Homo sapiens: one gene and its partner. The protein of the gene in region 2 purifies or fractionates together with the protein of the main gene of each other region. This does not show direct contact. Each region holds a gene or a part of one and is shown on either strand. Other genes may lie near its edges.

Region 1 (2,526 bases), on a different chromosome or scaffold from region 2:
CAGCTCCCCTCCCAGGAGACACCGGAAAGCTGCCCACACCCGACGGTCTGCGGGGTGGCTCCATCTCTGGCTGTCCCGACCCAAGCACCGCAGGAGTCACGACAGAAATGTTTTCTTCGGCTTCTCCAGGTGAAATTTCCACAACACAGAAAGAACAGAAAGTAGAAGCTGTTAAGCTCAGGACCGCAGGTTCGACATGGCTTGAATTTCAGACGGATCAGAAACCTCCCTGATGCTGGACAAAGTGTCCAGGGGCAGAGGACGGTGACTGGGAAGCAGAGGACGGCGCGGGGCTCTGTCGTGGTGATACGCGGCCTCTGCTCCTGAGAGGGGTGGGGTAGCCTGGGCCTGGCCTCCTCCTAAGCCCTTGGCCTGGGTTTGCACAAGGGCCCTAAGTGCCATGGACGGGAGACAGCCCAATCCCACCACAGGGCAAACAGGAGAGGCCAGGCCCCCCAAATCCCACCATGGGGCAAACAGGAGAGACCAGGCCCCCCAGCGCTTCCCCAGGCAGAGCAAGGTGGGAAGGATGGCAGCTCCCAGACAGCTCCTGTCCCTTCCATCAGGTGCTCTGCTCACCCCACGAGAGGGCGGGCAGACGAGCCTGACAGTGGTTGGGTTAAACCACTTCCTGATGCGAAAAGGGGTAAGAACTTCCTAAGCCCAGATTCACTCAGTCTCCTGACACACTAACACCAGCAGGCAGGCACTGCTGCCACTGAGGCCAGGCACCTGCACATACCTGCGTTCTTGGCTTTCAGGATGGAGTAGCAGAGGGAGGCCGTGTCAGAGATGACGCGCAGGAAAAATGTGGGGTTCTTCCAAACTTGCTGATGAAATGGGAGCTGCAGCACACATGCGTGAAACCTGAGAGGATGGCGGACAGCGTCAGAGGAAAGGCCTCCTAATCAGACGGTGCTCGTGGGTGTGGGCATGGGCCCACCGGTGCCTGTGTGCGTGCATGAATGCACATGCATGGGTTTCCTCATGGGCACAGGTGCACACACACGGATGCATGCATGCATGTCTGTGTGTGTGCTTGTGTGTGCGAGTAGCTGCGTGTCTGTGTGTGCACAGGTACACTGCGTTTCTGTGCACCATCTGTATGAACACGCATGTGGAGGCTGAAGCAGCTCCATCCTGGATGCCAGCCCCCCATGCTGGCTTCTGATTAGCCCCTGTTCCGGGAAGGCCTCTAAGGTTTCCAGTTTATCCATTGTTCCTTGTGTACCAGCAGGTACTTATCATGAATCCTGCCCTTCGTCAGACAACCTTGATGTCATCGTATATCAACGTCCTGCGCATCCCTTCTGAGCCACCCGCCCCTGTGGTGCATAAACCCTGGGTCTGGGGTGATGGTGTGAGGACCCATCATCTCATCTCACTGACACCGAGACACCGACTTGGCTTCTGTGTGTAGGTTAAGTTCCTACTAAATGTTTCTTTCCAAGAAACTGCATTTGTCAGTCTTCTTTGTTGTTGTTGAGATGGGCTCTCACTCTGTCACCCAGGCTGCAGTACAGTGGTGCAATCTCAGCTCACTGCAGCTTCCACCTCCTGGGCTCAAGTGATCCTCCCACTTCAGCCTCCCAAGTATTGGAACTACAGGCGCACACCACCATGCTCAGCTAATTTTTGTTTTTATTTTTCATAGAGATGGGGTTCTACTATGTTGCTCAGGCTGGTCTTAAACTCCTGGGCTCAAGGGATCCTCTCGCCTCGGCCTCCCAAAGTGCTGGGACTACAGGTGTGAGCCACCGCGCCAGCCCTGTCAGCCTCCATCTTTGGCCTCTCAGCTTCCTGGGACTTTGGGGCAGGTGTGCACAGACCTGGCTACCATGAAACAGCACATGTGCACATGTGCTCATATGTGCGTGTGATCAGAGCCCCCGTGTACCTGGTCTGACCCTCTGCCTGAGCCCCCCGTGTACCTCATCTCACCCAGTGCCTGAGCCCCCCATGTACCTGGCCTCACCCACTGCCTGAGCCCCCCGTGTACCTCATCTCACCCACTGCCTGAGCCCCCCATGTACCTGGTCTCACTGACTTCCTGAGCCACTTCTGGAATGACCTGAGATCACACCAGTCAAGCCAGCACCCCGGTTTCAGCCTCTCAGTAACTCTGCTGAGGTGGGATGTCTTTTCCCCATTTAGCAACAACGGAAGCCAGGCCCAGAATGTTTTTAAACAAATAAATAAGCCTAAGGTCCCGGGGTTGCCACACGGCCACGCTCCTGACCCAGGAGGGAAACACCTAGCATGGGTGAGGGGCTCTCTTCCAAAGGGAGAAATAGCCACCTGCTAGAGGTCGGGGCGTCCACCCCAAGCCCGTGTGGAGGCGCGGCCAGCACGGGCCAGGAAGGCCGAGCCCCAGCGGATTTGAATCAGACCCCGCCCCCAGCGCCACGTGGACCACCACAGCCTCGCCCACTGCAGCCTGGCTGCCGTGAAATCGGGGCCCAGCTCTCCGTTCTCCCACTCCTGCCTCGAGGGAAGGGGATTCCTGGGCCTTCCACGTGCCTGACT
Region 2 (3,660 bases):
AATAATGAGGTGATACTCGTACTGCTAGGTAACAAAAAGAACAGTCAAGTTAGCACTTATTGAATACTTACCACAAAAGTGTCACTGTTCTGTGTTTTACACCTTAACTCATTTAGTCCTTAAAACACTCCCATGAAGTAAGCACCATTATTATGGCTGTTGTACAAATGGGGGAAAGGAGGCATGAAGATTTGAACTCAGGCAGTCTTATTCCAAGTCCATGCTTTTTGCTGCTGTTACCCAGTCTCTCTAGAGTAGTGCTTCTCAAACCTTCTGAGATGAAGGACTAATTGTTCCTTTGTCTTTCTTTCTTCCTTCCTGCCTCCCTCCCGCCCTCCCTCTCTCTTTCTTGCTTTCTTTTTTTTCTTTTTTTTTTTTTTTTGACCAAGTTTCATTCTTGTTGCCCAGCCTGGAGTGCAATGATGCGATCTCGGCTCACTGCAACCTCTGCCCCCTGAGTTCAAGCGATTCTCCTGCCTCAGCCCCCCAAGTAGCTGGGATTACAGGTGCCTGCCACCATGCCCAGCTAATTTTTTGTATTTTTAGTAGAGACGGGGTTTCACCATATTGGCCAGGCTCGCCTCGAACTCCAGACCCCAGGTGATCCACCCGCCTTGGCCTTTCAAAGTGCTGGGATTATAGGCGTGAGCCACCGTGCCTGGCCTGTTTTAATTTCTTATCTGTCACGGAATAATACTTTTATAAAATATAATCAAAATGGATTATTAAGAAAATGAAATTAAAAAGCACACAAAATACAAGCCTCCATTTTTATTATTAAATTTGTCAGATATTACTTTTTAAATTCCTACACAGTTTCTAAATGGTTACTCTCAACTTCCGTACTTATCTCATTATAAAACATTAACAATTTGTGAACTGGCACTAGTCCATGAACCAAACTTTGAGTACCTCTGCTCTAGATTTCAAAAACAGATGTGGATATATGTGTAAAAATTTGGTATATAAAAAAGATGCTTTTCTAGATGGGTAGAAGAAAAGATTGTTCAAATGTCCTATGGTCTCACAATCCAGTGGTTATAACTGTAAAACTCATCCAGCCTTTGGGAGACACTGAAACTCCATTTAAAGATAAGAACTTGAAGGATGTTTAATGTAAACCTAAATTGATTTTCCCTTCAACTCCTTTTGGGTACATAATTACTTTTACCTAGAAGCTGTTCTTGACTTTACTCATAACAATTATACCATGACCTCACTGTCCTTCTCCAAGATGAAACAAAAAACCCTTCAAGTGGGCCTGGCCAACAAGACTGAATCTATTGAGCCTATTGGTCAAGTTAGCCTTTGCTTAACTTTCCCCAACCCCTTCACTCCAGCCTTAGCTGGGATGCTTTTATATAATTTTCAGAGCATGGAAGAGAGACAAATAGAGCTTCCTCCTGCAATTGGCCCAAGATTTTAGGGGAGCAAAAGGCAAAAGATTGAAATCAATGACTAGGATGATGCCATGCCATAGTTCGCTGCAGGATTTCTGGCAAGGATTATGGATCATAAATTTCAAAATACCATAACTAGGACTTCTAGTCACAAGGTAGATGTGGAAATGATGGTCCAGAAGGTATATTTCGAGGCTTGGCATGAGGCACATAAGAGAAGACAGAAGCATGGCCTATCAGCGGATGTCATCATCCTCTGGTCAGGATGGAAACCAGGGCATTGGATAGAAATAAAGTCCCTCAGGTTATTTCTCCATGTAAAACCTGGAATCAGGGTACAGTGAGAGTAAAACTCAGTGCCCTTTAACTCCCCAAGTCTTCAAAACTCATTTCTAGACCAGGGTGTAGTGGTATTTCTCCAAGAGAAACCTACCAAACCAGGACAAAATCCCTGTAATAGCCTTCACTTATCTCCTACAAGTCCTTGAATTCTTGGCCACAGAAGACATTTCCTTCTTCTTTAACCCTCAGAAAGAAAGGGCCTGAGGAAACTAAAGTCAGTGGTTTCAATCTTTTGCCTTTTGCTCTCCTAAAAGCATGGGCCAAGGGCAGGAGGAAGCTCTAGTTGTCTGTCTCCCATGCTCTGAAAATTCTACAAAACACCCCAGCTAAGGCTGGAGTAACAGAGGAGGAAAGTTAAGCAAAGGCTAACCTGCTCAATAGATTCTTCCATATGATTGAATTTTAGAAATATAATAAAGTTCTTTTATGGGCCGGGCACAATGGCTCACGCCTGTAATCCCAGAACTTTAAGAGGCTGAGGTGTGCAGATAACCTGAGGTCAGGAGTTTGAGACCCACCTGGCCAACATGGTGAAACTTCGTCTCTACTGAAATACAAAAATTAGCTGGGCGTGGTGGTGGGCACCTGTAATCCCAGCTACTCGGGAGGCTAAGGCAGGAGAATCGCTTGAACCCAGGAAGCAGAGGTTGCACTGAGCTGAGATTGCACCATTGCACTCCAGCCTAGGTGACAGAGCCAGACTCTATCTCAAAAACAAAAAAAAAAAAAAAAGGTTTTTTACTTAAGAAAATCAGAGTTCATGGCTATGATTGTGCCACCTCTCAATTAGTTTTAATCTTTGTGAATTTCAATTTGAGAGAGAGTAAGACACTTTCGTGATCTCTTCTGAGAATGCCAATTACCATATTGACTAAAGTTGAAAGTCGTGTCAGAAGTTGGGAAAACCAGAAGGTTTGTTCCGCTTTCAATGGCTTGGCTCCTCACCTCTCATCTGGGTAGTTCTTTTTTTTTTTTTTTAGACAGAGTCTCGCTCTGTTGCCCAGGCTGGAGTGCAGTGGTGTCTCGGCTCACTGCAAGCTCCGCCTCCTGGGTTCACGCCATTCTCCTGCCTCAGCCTCCCAAGTAGCTGGGACTACAGGTGCCCGCCGCCACACCTGGCTAACTTTTTGTATTTTTTAGTAGAGACAGGGTTTCACTATGTTAGCCAGGATGGTCTTGATCTCCTGACCTCGTGATCTGCCCACCTCGGCCTCCCAAAGTGCTGGGATTACAAGCGTGAGCCACCATGCCCGGCCTCCTCTGGGTAGTTCTGAGAAAAGGGCTGTCTCTGTGACAGAAACATAGCTCTTTCTAAATGCCCTGATGCATGACTGACTTATTCTCCCTCCCTCATTCTTTCCCGATGAACTGAAAGGTCTTCCATGCTCTGTTCAAATTGAATGTTGGCCAACATCACTCTCATTCCTCCTCCTGGCAAGAATGGCATCCTAGGGTCCTAGGGCCCGCGAGTGATGCAAGAATTCTAAAACCTAGTTTCAAAAGAGTACCTACTAAAGATTTCATTCACTTTCTTGTGGTTCTAGTAAGGATTAATGTTGAATAAGAAGAGACACACATTAGAATGTACATATACATACACATAGAATATCCTCCTGTTCTAAATCCACATGAGAACACAGGCAGGCCTACACTTGAGATTTTTTGACACTTCATTTTTATAATTATCAAGAAATTATTAATTTTATAATTATTAAAAGCTACCAGTGTCTTCAGGCTTTGCATCTCTAGCACAAGGGGTATCATTATTCCCGAGTGGCACATCTTCATTCCCAATTCAGAAAGTACACATTGCCCTGCACGTCTCCCACGGCAAGCTGCAGGGTGGAGTTAGCGCCCAGCCAAGGTTCCAGGCAGCTCACTGACCCTTCGCATCGGAACAGGCCCAGCTACGATGGGA

Evidence for each region.
Region 1: the proteins of TEP1 (region 2) and TERT purify together in Homo sapiens (affinity purification with western blotting, with the first as the bait; 2 studies listed by BioGRID). This does not show direct contact.

The regions. Positions count from the first base shown.
Region 1 is NC_000005.10:1,254,545-1,257,070, forward strand, and holds part of TERT (telomerase reverse transcriptase), read right to left. Parts: intron 868-2,526; coding exon 743-867; intron 1-742. UniProt on the Homo sapiens protein: Telomerase is a ribonucleoprotein enzyme essential for the replication of chromosome termini in most eukaryotes. Active in progenitor and cancer cells. Inactive, or very low activity, in normal somatic cells.
Region 2 is NC_000014.9:20,364,911-20,368,570, forward strand, and holds the end of TEP1 (telomerase protein component 1), read right to left. Parts: intron 3,650-3,660; coding exon 3,527-3,649; 3' UTR 757-3,526; downstream 1-756. UniProt on the Homo sapiens protein: Component of the telomerase ribonucleoprotein complex that is essential for the replication of chromosome termini. Also a component of the ribonucleoprotein vaults particle, a multi-subunit structure involved in nucleo-cytoplasmic transport.